Linked DNA regions of Homo sapiens. The protein of the gene in region 2 interacts with the protein of the main gene of each other region in a pairwise test. Each region holds a gene or a part of one and is shown on either strand. Other genes may lie near its edges. The genes, in order: MVD and BTAF1.

The links.
Region 1: the proteins of BTAF1 (region 2) and MVD interact in a two-hybrid assay, tested with the Homo sapiens proteins (one study listed by BioGRID).

What each region holds. Positions count from the first base shown.
Region 1 is NC_000016.10:88,659,562-88,668,108, forward strand, and holds the start of MVD (diphosphomevalonate decarboxylase), read right to left. Parts: upstream 3,531-8,547; 5' UTR 3,520-3,530; coding exon 3,450-3,519; intron 3,221-3,449; exon of another isoform or gene 3,158-3,220; coding exon of another isoform or gene 3,151-3,157; intron 1,077-3,150; exon of another isoform or gene 959-1,076; intron 1-958. UniProt on the Homo sapiens protein: Catalyzes the ATP dependent decarboxylation of (R)-5-diphosphomevalonate to form isopentenyl diphosphate (IPP).
Region 2 is NC_000010.11:91,919,079-91,927,497, reverse strand, and holds the start of BTAF1 (TATA-binding protein-associated factor 172), read right to left. Parts: upstream 3,729-8,419; 5' UTR 3,422-3,728; coding exon 3,408-3,421; intron 1-3,407. UniProt on the Homo sapiens protein: Regulates transcription in association with TATA binding protein (TBP). Removes TBP from the TATA box in an ATP-dependent manner.

The DNA.
Region 1 (8,547 bases), on a different chromosome or scaffold from region 2:
CCCGGGGCTTTCTTTTCTGCTTGCCCTAGACCTAGCCCTGCAGAAGCTGGAACTGCCAACCAAAGCCAGCCCTCCCTAGCAGGACCAGGAAGGGCAGCCTAGCAACACAGAAACAGACTCCTGGCCGGGCGCGGTGGCTCACGCCTGTAATCCCAGCACTTTGGGAGGTCGAGGTGGGCAGATCACCTGAGGTCGGGAGTTTGAGACCAACCTGACCAATATGGTGAAACCCCATCTCTACTAAAAATACAAAAATTAGCCAGGCTGTAGTGACGCACGCCTGTTATCCCAGCTACTCAGGAGGCTGAGGCGGGAAAATCGCTTGAACCTGGGAGGCGGAGGTTGCACTGAGCCGAGATGGCACCACTGCACTCCAGCCTTACTCCAGCCTGGCAACAGAGGGAGACCCTTTCTCAAAAAAAAAAAAAAAGAAAAGAAAAAAAGAAACAGATCCCTCCCACACTCCAGGCTGGAACAGTGCCCCGCCCCCTTTCCCTCCCTGAAGGAGTGGGGACTTTCACCTCCCCAGGAGTCATTGGAGAGCACACGGGAGACTGGACTCCCCTGACCTGCCGGCTCTTGTCAGAGGCCAAGCAGACACTCAGGAATTCCTGAGGGCCTGGTGGGGATGGGACAGCGTTGGTGGGGAGGGGAACCTGGACTTCTGCCTCCTTATCTTGAGCCAGCACCCCCTCCTCCACCAGCGCGCTATCAAAAACCAGCTCAAACGTAAGGTTTAAAGAAGACCAGAGTCTCTGAACGTTACAAGAAAATGGACACGTTTCCATAAATATCACTGTTGGTGAGCCTCAGTGGCTCACACCTACGATCCCAGCACTTTGGGAGGCCGAAGCAGGCAGATCACTTGAGGTCAGGAGTTTAAGACCAGCCTGGCCAATATGGCAAAACCCCGTCTCCACTAAAAGTACAAAAATTAGCCAGGTGTGGTGGCGCACACCTGTAGTCCCAGCTACTCGAGAGGCTGAGGCAGGAGAATCGGTTGAACCCGGGAAGCGGAGGTTGCAGTGAGCCGAGATCACGCCATTGCACTCCAGCCTGGGTGTCGCAGTGACAGTCTGTCTCAAAAAAATAAATATAAAAGTAATACAAATAAATATAAAAATATAAATATAAAATAAATAAATATAAAAAATAAAAATAAAAGGCCAGACGCGGTGGCTCACACCTGTAATCCCAGCACTTTGGGAGGCTGAGGTGGGCAGATCACGAGGTCAGGAGCTTCAGACCAGCCTGGCTAACACGGTGAAACCCCATCTCTACTAAAAATACAAAAATTAGCCAAGTGTGGTGGCACGTGCATGTAGTCCCAAATACTCAGAAGACTAAGGCAGGAGAATTGCTTGAACCCAGGAGGCGGAGGTTACAGTGAGCCAAGATTGTGCCACTGCACTCCAGCCTGGGTGACAGAGCAAGACTCTGTCTCAAAAAAAAAAAAAAAAAAAAAAAAAATAGCAGAAGAGAAAATCCAGAAATAGACCCACACAAACATGCCCAGCTGATTTTTTTTTTTACAAAAGTGCAAAAGCAATTCAATAGAGGAAGGATAGCCTTTCTGGGCTAACTGGACAACCTTGGATCACAGACTTAAATATAAAAGGCAATCCTGTACAACTTGGAGGAAAGCAGACAATCTTCAGGACATAGGGCTAAGCAAAGAGGTCTTAGACTTGACATCAACATTGATACACTGAACTTCTTTAAAATGAAAAACTGGCTCTTTGTTAAGAGGACAAAAAGATTAGCTAGTTTGGGAGACAATACCTGCAAACCACATGTCCAACAGGAGACTAATATCTAGAATACATATTTTATTTTTTTTCAGTAGAGACGGGGGTTTCACCATGTTGGCCAAGCTGGTCTCAAACTCCTGACCTCAGGTGATCCGCCCACCTCAGCCTCCCCAAGTGCTGGGATTACAGGCTTGAGCCAGCGTGCCCAGCCTAGAATGTGTAATGAACTCTCCAAACTTATAGTAAAAAAGCAAACCATCCAGTTCGAGCGTGGACACAGAATATGAAGAGAGATTTCACCAAGAAAACCCACAGATGGCAAATAAGCACAAAGAAAGATGCTCCACGTCACTGGCCAACAGGGAAACGCGAATGAGGACCACAGCACCCTGCCAGCACATCCCTACCAGGACGCGGCTAAAATGAAAAACAGCAACTCCACCAAATGCTGGTGAGGATGCGGAAAATCTGCATCACCGTAGGGATGCAAAATGGCCCAGCCACTCTGAAAAACAATTAGACAGTTTCTTTAAAAAAAAAAAGTATATATATAATATATATATGTATATATACACACACATACATCTATATAGGTGTATACATATACACACACATATATCTATACAGGTGTATATATATATACACACACACAAACATACATATATACATAGAAAGAGAGAGAGAGACAGAGAGGCATATATATATATCTACCATCTGACCCAGCAACCGCACTCCTGGGCATTTATCCCAGAAGAATGGAAATGTATGTTCACACAAAAACCTGTATACAACATTTTATGGCAGCTTTATTGGTAAGGGAAACACAAAAAAATTAGCCAGTCGTGGTGGCGGCTTCTGGAAAGAAAAGAAAGAAAGAAAGAAAACGTTAGATGCTCTTTGCGGGGTGAGGCCTTGGCTAGAGAGAGGGTGGTCCATGGATTCCACGGACTGGCTCAGCAACAGAGGGGCAAAGCACTGATACAATCCCGGGGCACGTCCACATTCTATGCTGAATGAAATAAGCCAAACTCAAAAGATACTGGGTGGGCCACATAACTGCGATTCCAGTTTCAGAACATTTTGAAATGACGTTACAGAAATGAGTGGTCAGTGGCGGCCAGGTAACCCCGGCGCGAGGGGAGGGGCGGGGCTGTGAACGCACAGGTGCGGACCGGCCTCCCCGGCACGGATGTGGGCCTGCGGGCCCCCCATTACCGCTCCTTGGAGGTTACCGCTGGGAGAAACGGGGCGAGGGAGGGACACAGGGTCTCGGGCTGGGGGAGCAGTGGCGCGATTTCCGCTCACTGCAGCCTCGACCTCCCGGGCTCTGGCCATCCTCCCGCCTCAGCCTCCCGAGTAGCTGGAGCCACAAACGCGCACCACCACGGCGGATTCTTACGATTCATGGGAATCGATGATTGATGATTTCGATAGTTCGGTAATCGCTAATGGGCAGGCGCCGGGCGACCCTGCAGGGGCGGCAGCCGTCGCGGGGGAACGGGTGGCGCCGAGCTTGTCACGCGAAGGAGCGCGCGGCCCCGCCCGACCACCGCCGCGCCCCTCCCTGAGCCTCAGTTTCCCCGTCTGTCGAGGCCCTGGGAGGGCAGGACGGAGCGCGCCGCCGAATCAGCGCGCGACCCCCGCGTACCCGGCCTCGCTCCCGGCCATCCCCGTCCCAGGCCGGCCCGCGGCACTCACAGTACTTGATGACCGCGATGTTGACCGGCGCTGTACAAGTGACTGCCGCCAGCGGCTTCTCCGAGGCCATGGTCCCACCGCGCAGTGACCCCAGCTCCACAGCCACTTACGGCCCGCGATCCCACCCCAGAGGCCTCTGCCTCCTCACGCGCTACCACAGGATTGGCCCGTGCGAGCCCGGCTGCTCGCGCGCCGACCAATCAGCGGCGAGTCGGGCGCACGCATTACCTCTCAGCCAATGGACGGGATCGGACGATGGGTTGCTGACGTAGGTCCGCCCCACCCGCAGGGTGCGCTCGCCAGGCCTGGGGCGTGGTGTTGTCTGCGCAGGCGCCGTGTGCCCAGGCGCCTGGCGTCCGCGTCGGCGATCCGGGGTCTGGGCGCGGCGAGGTGGGCGCTGTTGCCTGTGGGGGCTACCTGTCTGCTGGTGCTGTGCGGGCTTGTGCGGGGCTGTGCGGCAGCTGTGTGGGGCCCGTGAGGAGCTGTGCGGGGGGCTGTGCGAAGGGCTGTGTGAGGCGCTGTGCTGGGGGCTGTGCGGAGACCTTGAGGCGCTGTGCGGGGTCCGTGAGGCTCTGTGTGGGGCGCCGTGTGGGAGACTCTGCGGGGGCCGTAAAGGGTCCGTGAGGCGCTGTGTGCGGGTTGTGAGGCGCTGTGCGGGGACCATGAAGGGGCCGTGGGGCGCTGTGCGGGTGCCGTGGGGCGCTGTGTGGGAGGGAGGCTGTGCGGGGCCGTGGGACGGTGTGCGGGGCTGAGGGGAGGGCGGGTCGCGCTGTGCCCTCCTTGAAGCTCTTGGACGGCCCCGCTGGGTATGGGGGTGCACACAGGCCCGAGGGCAGGCGCTGGAGGATGTATCCCGGGATCCACTCTTAACCCGGCAGCCGAAGGCACCCTGTCCCGCCGCCCACAGCCTTCTCCGCGCCATGTCCTGGGCCAGGATCCCCCGCCACGGGGCTCACACGAAAGACCCCGGGGCGGGGAAGCCCCGCAGCCCGGAGCTGGGTCCAACCTGCATTAAGGTGGGCGTCTCAAATACCCCCTGTAAGGCCCTGTAGGAGCAAAGCCTTGGACTGGGTTGCGGCGCTTGTGTGTGCATTGACTTCTCCTGTGAAACGTACAGGAACATTTAAGCGTGCCGTTCCCTGCCATTCATTCCAATCATGTGCCACGCCCCCACTATTTCTAGAGTTTTCTCACCCCAAACAGAAACTCTGTCCCCTTAAAACAATGACTTCCCATTTTCCCCTTCCCCTTTTAAAATTTTACCTTTAGTTTTTAAATAGCTCAGATTGGCTGGGCATGGTGGCTCACACCTGTAATCCCAGCACTTTGGGAGGCCGAGGTGGGCGGATCACGAGGTCAGGAGTTTGAGACCAGCCTGGCCAACATGGTGAAACCCTGTCTCTACTAAAAATACAATAATTAGGTGGGCGTGTGGTGCACGCCTGTAATCCCAGCTACTGGGGAGGCTGAGGCAGGACAATTGCTTGAACTCAGGAGGCGGAAGTTGCAGTGAGCCGAGATGGTGCTGCTGTACTCCAGCCAGGGTGACAGAGCAAGACTCCATCTCAAAAAAAAAAAAAAAAAAAAAAAAAACTCAGATTTCGGAAAATAGGGGAGTATGCAGTGTGAAGTGTCCACTCTGCCTAGCCACCTACTTCTATTACCAGAACCATCATACTTATAAATTCTTTATTTTTTTCCAGAAATAGAAAAAAAGTCTGTTTTTTTTCTCACTCTGTTGCTCAGGCTGGAGGGCAGTGGTACGATCAAAGCTCCATGCAGCCTCGACCTCCTGGCTCAAGGGATCTTCCCACCTCAGTTTCCTCAGTAGTTGGGACTACAGGTACACACCACCATGCCCGGCTAATTTTTTTCTTAATTTTTTTGTAGAGATGTGGGGGGGTCTTGCTATGTTGCCCAGGCTGATTTGAAGTCCTGGCCTCAGGGAACCCTCCCATCTCAGTCTTCCAAAGTACTGGGATTAGGTGTGAGCCACTCCACCTGGCCTGTCAATTCTTTGTGTATTTTTTCATTGACGTGCATAGTACAAGCACATAGCGTGTTCTCCCACCTTGCTTTTTCTACGTACCTTCTTCTTAGAGATCATCCCAATTTAGTAAAAAGCTTCCTTGTTTGTTGTCTAAATATACCTGGTCTGTCCTAGTTGGGTTGTTACTATAAACAGTGCTTTCCTACGTTGTTTGTGCACATGTATTTCTGCAGGAGAAATTCCTGGAAGTGGAATTGCTGGGCCAAGTGGGATGTGCCTGAGTACTTTTGATAGCTGTTGGCAAGTCGCCCTTTGTGGAAGTCAATTGATTACTCAGGTCTCTCTGCGGAAGTCTGAGAGTGCCTGCATGCCTTCACCAGCACAGTGGGTCACCTGCCAGAGTGACATGTGTTGTCTCACTGTTTTCAATTTGCATTTCAGATGGTGGTTATTTTTAATTTCTCTTGCAATCACAGCTGCTTTTCCATTTTATGCAAAGCCACTAAATCCTATTGAAGAGCTGATGTGGACTGTCTCGGCCTATAGTCAGGGTGTATTCCCTCAGCTACTCAGAGAGAGTGGGGCTTCCAGTCACCTCCTTCCTTCTGCCACGGCTGTGATGAAAAAGAAGACACAGGCTTGGTGCTTTGGGAGGCCAAGGAGGGCAGATTGTTTAAGTCCAGTAGAAAAAAAAACAATTTATTTTTGTTTAGAGACAGGGTCTCACTCTGTTGTCCAGGCTGGAGTGCGATGGCACCATCAGCTCACAGCAGCCTCAACCTCCTGGGCTCAGGTGATCCTCCCACTTCAGCCTCCCAAGTAGCTGTGATAAGTGCCACCACTCCTGACTAATTTTTATTTTTTATTTTGTAGAGATGGAGGTCTTACTGTGTTGCCCAGGCTGCTCTTTTTTTTTTTTTTAGACAGAGTCTCGCTGTGTCACCCAGGCTGGAGTGCAGGGGGGCAATCATAGCTCACTGCAACTTCTGCCTCCTGGTTTCAAGTGATTCTCATGCCTCAGCCTCCCAAGTAGCTGGGATTACAAGCGTGCACCAGCAGGCCCGGCAAATTTTTGTATTTTTAGTAGAGACGGGGTTTCGCCATGTTTGGCCAGGCTGGTCTCAGACTCCTTGCCTCAAGTGATACGCCTGCCTCGGCCTCCCAAAGCACTGGGATTACAGGCGTGAGCCACCATGCCTGGCGTTTTTATTATTATTATTTTTTTTTTTTTTTTTGAGACAGAGTCTCGGTCTGTCACCCAGGCTGGAGTGCAGTGGCGTGATCTCGGCTCACTGCAACCTCCGCCTCCCACGTTCACGCCATTCTCCTGCCTCAGCCTCCCAAGTAGCTGGGACTACAGGCGCCCACCACCACGACCGGCTACTTTTTTTTGTTATTTTTAGTAGAGACGGGGTTTCACTGTGTTAGCCAGGATGGTCTCGATCTCCTGACCTTGTGATCCGCCCGCCTCAGCCTCCCAAAGTGCTGCGATTGCAGGCGTGAGCCACTGTGCCTGGCCCTATTTTTTTAAGTTTTAGATAACCTCTATTGATTATGACTCAATAGAAATAAGGAATTCTCTTCCATCTCCCAGTCACATACCTTCTTATCCTATCCCTCCATCAGCATTCCTTATTTTCATTATTACAATTATCTAAGTTATACTCACAGTTGAGCCATGTAGCAATGGGTGCCGACAGTGTGCTTGTGGGCAGACTCCCTTATTGAGTGGAGAACTAGGATAAACTACCTCCCTGAAAGATGTCACACATCGATCCCCACCCTGACGCCTGTAGCCCAGCTCTCCTGAACCTCAGCCTGTATGTGTGTCGAAAATAGGCCAAGCATGGTGGTCCATGCCTGTAAGCCCAGCAGCACTTTGGGATTTGGGAGGACTGCTTGAGGCCTGGAGTTCAAGACCAGTCTGGGCAACATAGCGAGACTCCACCATATCCACAAAAAAAAAATTTTTTTTTTTTTTTTTTTTAAGACACAGTCTTGTTCCATTGCCCAGGCTGGAGTGCAGTGGTGCAATCTCGGCTCACTGCAACCTCCGCCTCCCAGGCTCACTGCAACGTCCGCCTCCCAGGCTCACTGCAACCTCCGCCTCCCAGGCTCAAGTGATTCTCCTGCCTCAGCCTCCCAAGTAGTTGGGACTCCAGGTGTGTACCACCACACCCAGCTAATTTTTTTGTATTTTTAGTAGAGACGGGGTTTCACCATGTTAGCCAGGATGGTCATGGTCTCGATCTCCTGACCTCGTGATCCACCCGCCTAGGCCTCCCAAAGTGCTGGGATTACAGACATGAGCCACCGCATCCAGCCTACAAAAAAATTTTTTCAAAATTAGCTGGCCGTAGTGGTGCACACCTGTACTCCCAGCTACTAGAGAGGCTAAAGCAGGATGATCGCTTGAGCCCAGGAGTTCAAAGCTTCAGTGAGCTCTGATCACACCACCGCACCTGAGCCACAGGCATGGGTGCTTTGCTGAGTATGGTATGGGTAGGCTGTGTGTGGCACTGATTCATGAGGGGAGAGGGTCTGGGAGATGAATGGGAAGCCAGACAGCTGGAGCCCGTGGGTGGGCCCTGACTGGTGTTGGGGCAAGGAGGGGAAGCCCAGCCAGGGCTGAGCATGTCCTGCCTGGTTCCAGGCCTGCAGCCCTGGGGGTTTGGCCTGGACAGGCCAGCAGAGGGGCCCCGAGCACAGCCTGCACAGCATCCTACTGCTGATCCCCGGGGCTTCCTGCGTCCTGGCGCTTCCTGTCCTTTCCCCAAGCCCAGGCATCTGGGACTTTAAAAAGTCAGAAAGCAACTGGAAAGGAAGGCATGTGTCTAGCTTGCTCTATATCTGCCTTGCATTGGGAGGCCTTCAGTGGGAATGTTTTTCTGGAAGCAGTCAGCAAATGTGAAACACCATGAAGCCAGGCGATTGGAGAGGTAAAAAGAAGCGAGGACTCAGGGAATATGGGCATTTTAAAAATAATAATTTAAATTAAAAAAAGACAAGGAAATGTTTATTCCAGAGGAGTTAACAATTTGATACTTTTTTTTAACTTTTATTTTAGGTTTGGGGGTACATGTGAAGGTTTGTTACATAAATAAACAC
Region 2 (8,419 bases):
TAAATATTATGACTGATAGGAATATGTATTGGTGCAAATAGCTCAGATGAAGTAAAACCAGAGAAAATGTCCTGAACAAGGTAATATATAAGCTTAGATCAAAAAATTGAGGCAGGTGGATCGCCTGAAGTCAGGAGTTCGAGGCCAGCCTGACCAACATGGAGAAACCCCATCTCTACTAAAAATACAAAATTAGCCGGGTGTGGTGGTGCATGCCTGTAATCCCAGCTACTCGGGAGGCTGAGGCAGGAGAATCGTTTGAACCCGGGAGGTGGAGGTTATGGTGAGTCAAGAACGCACCATTGCACTCCAGCGTGGGCAACAAGAGCAAAACTCTGTCTCAAAAAAAAAAAAAATCAAACAAAAAAACACACTAAGGTCAGAACTAGCCATACCTGAGATGGGGCTAAGAAGTGTTCCAAAGATAAACAGTAGGGGGTAACAAAATGAATTCTGGGGAGGGTGGAGGATAGAAGAGAGAAGAAGGTGAAGGGGAAGTACAGAGAAGTTGACACAAGATGAATCTAAAAAGATGACACAGGAACCAGATCACAAAGGACTTGGTAAGATATGTTTGTTTGAGAATGTGGACTTTATCCTAAGGCAATAGGAAACAACTAAAGGTATTAATTAGAAAGATTACCATGTTCATGTTCAAATCTTCAAATCAGTAAATAATATGACTGAAGCGAAGAACAGATTGAAATGAGATGCCATGGAAGGCAGGAAAAGGAGAGAGGCTCCTGTCTTGTACTAAACATGTCCAAATACCAAATACATTGATACATAAACTTACTATGAGACTTATCAGGTGATACAATGTTCAAGGAGATGAGTACTTCCTTTCCTAGGGTTGAGTGTGTATTTTCAAAAGATTGGATGTAGCTTTACAGTGACAAAAGGGAAGCGTCTCTCTAAAGGTGTCTTGGACTAGAGATGGTGGCATGTTCTAGGATTGTGGTAACTGGTATAGAAAGAAAAATGATCAGCTGGAGAAAGATTAGAAAGGCAGAATATACAGGATTGGATTTGGTAACTGGCTGGACATGGGGTGTGGGAGGAAAAGGGAAGTCAAAGAACATTCTCAAATTTCTTGACCAGACAATTGAGGGAATAATGGTACTAACTTACTATTTCCCATCTGTTGGAAATTCTGGTGGAAATGTCCTAAAAATATTACAGTTTCTCTTCAGTTATGCATATGAAATAAACAGTGCAAAAAATATTTTAGATTTGATTTTAGCATATGATTTTTATCTCCTGGGCTATTTTCCACCTATTTTACGTAAAATAGTATTAAAATGAGTCTGCACCAACAGGAGAGAAAGGAAGTTTAGTTAGCACAGAACTGTGCTTCGTGCATGGAGAAGGCCAGCTTGAAACTAAAATTTGCCATTCAAAGAAATCCACAGGTGAAAAAGTCAAGAATTGACACTATCCCCAAAACACACAAGTGTCTCAAAATGTTTTCCTTGGGCTTACTACTGAGCCCAAGGAAACTAAGCACAGAAATAGCTCTTCCATAAAAACATGACAGGCTTTTAAAAAAGTGAACGAGAAAAAAATCCACAGAAAAAGAGTGCTACTCTTTGAAACACAACATCCAGAACAAAAGACAGTACCTTCAAAACCCACTCAGTCATTGAGAAATATTAACTGTCCTAAAATTCCGTAAAGAGATTAGTGTTGGCTGGGCGCGGTGGCTCACGCCTGTAATCCCAGCACTTTGGGAGGCCAAGGCCGGCGGATCACGAGGTAAGGAGATCGAGACCATCCTGGCTAACACGGTGAAACCCGTCTCTACTAAAAATACAAAAAACTAGCCAGGTGTGGTGGCGGGTGCCTGTGGTCCCAGCTACTTGGGAGGCTGAGGCAGGAGGATGGCCTGAACCCGGGATGCGGAGCTTGCAGTGAGCCGAGATCTCGCCACTGCACTCCAGCCTGGGCTACAGAGCCAGATTCCTTCTCAAAAAAAAAAAAAGAGATTAGCGTTGCCCGAAAATTAGGTTCTTTTTAAACACTTTCATTTTGTCTTTATAAAGCTACATCCAATCCTGTGAAAATGCACAGGTTGCTCTAAGAAAAGAAGTACTCATCTCCTTAAACACTATTACCTGATAAATGTTATATTAAGTTTACATATCAATGCATTTACAATGTATATATTCATGCATTTATATGGGAGGTAACAAATTAGAAGATACACCTTTCTATATTTGCAAAAATGTAAAATGTCACTTGTATTCTCTCAAGGCAGTTTTATTTAAAAAAAAATTTCCTCACATTGAATAGATTATAAAATAAAAATCAGATGCCCCATACTACGGTACCTAGCAACCCCCTTCACCCAACTCCCATGGGCTTCTCCCACACACTATTTCATCAGTCATCTAGGGAGTCTGTAAGGAATGGGTTATCCTTTCCCTTGCAAAACAGATAAAACTTGTGCACTTAATACGCTCAAAGAATGTGTTCAGTTAATTATAAAAAAATGAAAACTATTTGTTTTCATCATTTATTCCTTCAGTCTATATGGTAAAAGAATCCAATTCTCATTAAAAGTTACCATATCAACTCTAAGGAACTTGGTGAATCCATCCGATCACTATCACAGAGGAACTATCCCTTAATTACATGTACAGAGGGTCACCAAATTCCGCTTACAAAAGCTTTCCAACCATTCTATCATACCGGAGGAAAAAGTAATGTTTCTCCTATAGCTATACAAATAAATGTCGTTAGTTTTTCTATAGTTTTCCTGGGCTTTCCTGTTGACAGGCAATATTTCAAAAGAATATAAGATCTGTGATTTATCTTCCACGCCTTAGTTACGGAAAATGATGCTAATACGATAATTGGCTTAAGGTTACAACGCTGACGTTGGAATGTTTACTGCCAAACAAAAGGAGAAATTATACTTAATTTTAAAAAACATCTCAGGAAAGAACATACCCCTAAAAACGTAAATTAAAACTGGTAACATAATTAGACGGTCTCTTAGATAATAGTAATTCAGGTTTCCCCTCCATCGACAGTAACTACCAAGTTTTCCCATGAAATGGAGGTTAGGGACCAGCCTTAGAATACTGAGAAAGATAAGAGACTCCCCTAGAATCGAAAGAGGGAAGAGAAACCAGAGAACAGAAACATGGTGAGGAAAGAGAAAAAACAGCTCTAACGTGCCAAGGGGTCTATTAACAAGAAAAAGGCATTATTGAACCGATTTACCCAGGAGTAACCCGAGCCCAAACCCCCGCCGACCACGGGGCGAACTCCGAAGTCTACTGAAGAAAGCTCCAGAGCCCAGTGACAATGAGAACCGCTCTTCTCTAGGAGTGGGGGCTCTAAGAGGAGACCATGCCTTCCCTGAATCGCCTTCCAGTTTGCTCGTCAGGAGCAAGACCCACCTGGAGACCGCCATGGCCGGGCGCCGGCGGTTCGGAGCTCCCCGCGACCTACGCGCCGCGCAGCTGAGGCGCTAGTTTCCAGAGAGCTGAGCGGCGCAGGCCCAGGCCGCGGAGCACAGGGGAGCGGCCGGTGCGGCGTGGGGCGTTCCAGCGCAGGCCCTCGGGCATCTGCCCTGCCGCCTACCCGAGCTCGTCCCCGCGGCGGCCGGTAAGCAGGGGTCCAAGACGGTAGCGGAGGCGGCAGTCCTCCGACCCGCACGACTTCAAACCGGGTACCCTCAGCTCCGCTCTTTGCTGACGCGGGCGTCGGCACGCACAACTGAGCGTCAGCGCGCCGGAAGTGACGTAAGCTCACCGACAGGAGCTTAGCTCGGCGCGAGCGCCTTTGGTTTGGCGGCACGCGCCTAAATAAAAGCGCTTTGTGCTGATGTGGAGAGGGTGTCTAGTCTTAAAACTAGGGAAGGAGGTGAAGTAAGGGTCCCCTTATTTGACAGAGAAGGAAAAAGGCGATTTAGTCCAAGTCCTGGAACTTCGAAAGCTTGGTTTCTAATTCCACACTACCCAGATTCTGCTTCCCACCGTACTGCATCTAGGAAGCAAGATCAGAAGGACCTTAACATGCTCTTGTCCAGGTGGTGAAGCCAGTGGGAGGAGTGAAAGCAAAAAGTCGCTATGACACTGAAGAAATGGCTCAGATGTTTGTCATTATTTGCCAGAAGTTCTGCCTAGGTATTGGAGAGAAGGTCTTCTGACCAACGATTTTGCCAAGTTTGATTTCTCAATTGTTTATGTTGTTTGTACCATCATTTTCTCAGCCAGCCAGATTTGAAAACTACCATTTTTAAATTTTTGTTCCTTTGGGGGACTTATCTGGCTTTTCAATATTTTTAAGTTCATTAGGCTTTTAAACACTTCTGCCAGGCCCTTATCATCTTACACTTGATTTTTTTTTTTTGACCGAGTTTCGCTCTGTCGCCCAGGCTGGAGTGCAGTGGCGCGATCTCGGCTCACTGCCAACCTGCGCTTACCGGGTTCAAGCGATTCTAAATGTGCCTCAACCTCCCGAGTAGCTGGGAGGCACACGAGCCCCACGCCGGGCCAATTTTTTGTATTTTTTAGTAGAGACGGGGTTTCGCCATGTAGGCCAGGCTTGTCTCCTGCTCCTGGCCTCAAGTGATCTGCCCGCCTCGGCCTCCCAAAGTGCTGGGATTACAGGTGTGAGCCACTGCGCCCGGCCCTTAAACTTGATTTTTATGCTAGTAGTCAAAATAATATTTCTCCAATTTTCAGTTCAGCCCATTTTATAGGCCAACAGATTAATCTTCAAAAAACCTCACTGCTTTTTATCATGTCGCTCCTATGCTTATAAAGCATGTCCATTGGCTTCTCATTACCTGAAGAGGCTATGTCTCAATCCTTGAGTCTGTTTTTCATCTGTAAAATGAGGCTAATGAGAAGTACTGCAGAAGATTGTGGGAATAAAATGAGGTCATGAATCTAGAAGAGCTTACAAGAACTTTGTAAACCATAAAGTAGTATATATGTATGTAAAGAGAAAGAAACTAACAAGTACCTGCTGTGTGCTGGGCACATGACATGCATTATCCATATAATTTGTAGGGAAGCCTTGAAAAGTTAGTTTTAATCTTCGTAGACAAGGAAACTAAGCTCAGAAAGGTTAAGTAATTTGCCTCAAGATTCAAGCTAGTAATAATATTTATTGTCCAGTCATTCAACAAATGTTTGTCACCTCTCTGTATCAGAAACTCTGCTTGGCGGTGTTCATGCTATTAAAATCTAATCAAGTTGATGTTCAAGATATCTTTACATTTTCACTTTAGTCACCTACTTGCCTCATCAGTTTATCTCCCACCATTCAATAACAAGCAGATACTTTTTACTGATCGTGTACAGCAATCATTTAGCCAAAATTAAGCACCTACCATATGAGAGACTGGAACTTCTGAAGAAACCAGAACAGACAAGGTGCCTACTCTGGTTGAATTTACATTAAAAGGAAAGGAAAAAGAAAATAGATAAACATTGAAAATATATTTATGTGCTATGTAAAGAGAATGATGGAATTAATGGTATGATTAAAGACCTACTCTTACTGGGTAAATCAGGGAAAAACAGGATTAGCTTAAGCTGAGCCCTAAATGACAAGAGGTAGCTAAATGTGTGACAATCTGGGAGCCTTCCAGGAAGAGGGTATACGTAGTGCAAAGGCGTAAGAGAAGTCTGCTCTGTTGGGAAATGAGATGGGAGAAGTAGAAAGGGATCATCGTAAGGAATTTGGACTTTGCTCCATATGAAGTAGAAAGTCATAGAGTTTTAAGCAAGTGAGTAAAATGATCTTAGTTATATTTTTTAAATCTTTTTATTATCAGATAATTGGGTATATAGTCTAAATGGCATTAGAAGAGAGGAAAGGACTGGTGGTGTAGATTTGTAAAGGATAGTGTAATAATCAAATATATTGATATTGGACCGGCTTGTTTTTAAATCCTTTCTCACCACACTGAATCGCAGTGTCTCCAGGGGGAATTTTAGAACCTCTCTAAGCTTCATCTGGGAAATGAGGATAATAATAGTACTCATAGGGTTGCGGTGATGATTAAATTAATGCACATAAAACATTTAACCAAGTGACTGCCACGAGAAGCCCTCAAAAATATTATTAACTACATTGCTTACTGTTTTTGTTAACAATGGAAACTTGAGTAAGTGGCAATTTCTAGTCTCAATTTATTCAGCTGTGAAACGGGGATAATAATAGTACCAGTTCACCACCGTTATCTATACCAGTTCATCACCCCTGCCAGATGGTTTTCTGAGTTAAGAATTATTTAGGTTTTGAAAAGAAATCCAATGAATATACCTTGTATTATGCAGCATCCCAACAGCTTGTAGGGCAGTACTCTATAATCAAATATATTTATAGAGCTGCAGCAAAATGTATGACTAACCATACTAAGAGGAATAAGTAAAAGACTATAGATAGGCATATGCCAGTTCAGGCCAGGATTTGCTGCCAAATATATATATTTTGAGATGGCATTTTGCTGTTTCCAAGGCTGGTCTTGAACTCCTGGGCTCAAGCAGTCCTCCCATCTCAGCCTCATGAGTAGCTGGGACTATAGGTGAGTTTTTAAAAGTGTGGTTTTCAGACCATTTTCAATTTCAGAATTGTAAATAATAGATCATGAACCTGTACTTATAGAATTGTCATAAGGAAGAAATGAGTTCATACATGACACACTTAGAAAATACTAAGTATTAGCCAGGTGTGATAGTTCATGCCTGTCATCCCAGCACGTTGAGAGGCTGATGTGGGAGGATCGCTTGAGCCCAGGAATTCGAGACCAACCTGGGCAACATAGGGAGACCTCATGTCTACAAAAAAAATTTTTTTTAATTAGGCTGGGTGCGGTGGCTCATGCCTGTAATCCCAGCACTTTGGGAGGCCAAGGCAGGCAGATCATGAGGTCAGGAGATGGAGACCATCCTGGCTAACACAGTGAAACCCAGTCTCTATGAAAAATACAAAAAATTAACCGGGCATGGTGGCGGGCACCTGTAGTCCCAGCTACGCGGGAGGCTGAGGCAGGAGAATGGCATGAACCTGGGAGGCAGAGCTTGCAGTGAGCCAAGATCACGCCACTGCACTCCAGCCTGGGTGATGGAGCAAGATTCCGTCTCAAAAAAAAAAAAAAAAAAAAAGCCAGCTGTTGGTGGCATGTGCCTATAATCTTGGCTACTCAGGAGGCTAAGGTGGGAGGATCCCTTGAGCCCAGGAACTTGAGGCAACAGTAAGCCATGATCATGCTACTCTACTCTAGCCTGGGTGACAGAAGGAGACCCTGTTTCAATGAAAAGAAAAGACTAAGTATTAAATAAATATTAACTATTATGATTAACTATTTTAGTTATTATTATTTATAATAACTAAATGTACACCATTAAGTGAACAAATATTCACATTATAGGAGTTAAGGAAGGAGAAGTGATAACGAAAAAGCTTATTTAGTGAAATTATTGCTAAAAAAACCTTTCAAGTCTTGGGACAGATATAGAGGGGCAGATTCATAAAACTGAAAGATCCCCCAATAAATACAGCCCAAAGACATCCTCACCAAGGCACATAATAATCAAACTGTCAAAATTTAAAGAAAAATAAAGAATTTTAAAAGCAGCAAGAGAAAAGTGTCAAGTCACATATACGGGAATCTCCATTAGACTACCAATAGATTTCTCAGGAGAAACCTTATAGGCCAGGAAAGAATAAGATTATATATTCAAAGTGCTGAAAGGAATGAAGAAATGAAGAAGAAATAAAGTTTTTCCCAAACAAGCAAAAGCTGAAGAAACTCATCACTACTAGGTCTGCCCTACAAGAAATGCCTAATGGAAGTTTCTTTCTTTCCTTTTTTTTTTCCTTCGAAGTCTTGCTCTTGTCCCCCAGGCTGGAGTGCAATGGCACAATCTTGGCTCACTGCAACCTCCGCCTCCTGGGTTCAAGCAATTCTCCTGCCTCAGCCTCCCGAGTAGCTGGGATTACAGGCAACTGCCACCACACCTGGCTAATTTTTGCATTTTTAGTAGAGACGGGGTTTCACCATGTTGCCCAGGCTGGTCTCAAACTCCTGACTCCAGGTGATCCACCTGCCTCGGCCTCCCAAAGTGCTAGGCTTTCTTGCTTTCTTCCTTTCTTCCTTCCCTTCCTTCCTTCCTTCCTTCCTTCCATCCTTCCTTCCTTCTTTTCTTTCTTTCTTTTTTTGACAGGGTCTTGCTTTGTTGCTGGAATTCAGTGGCACAATCATGATTCACTGCCACTTTGAATTCCTCCCAAGTAGATGGAACTATAGGCATGTACCACTGTGCCCAGCTAATATTTATTTATGTATTTATTTACTATAGAGATGGAGTCTTGCCATCTTGCTTAGGCTGGTCTCAAACTCCTGGACTCCAGTGATCCTCCTGTCTTGGCCTCCCAAAGTGTTGAGATTATA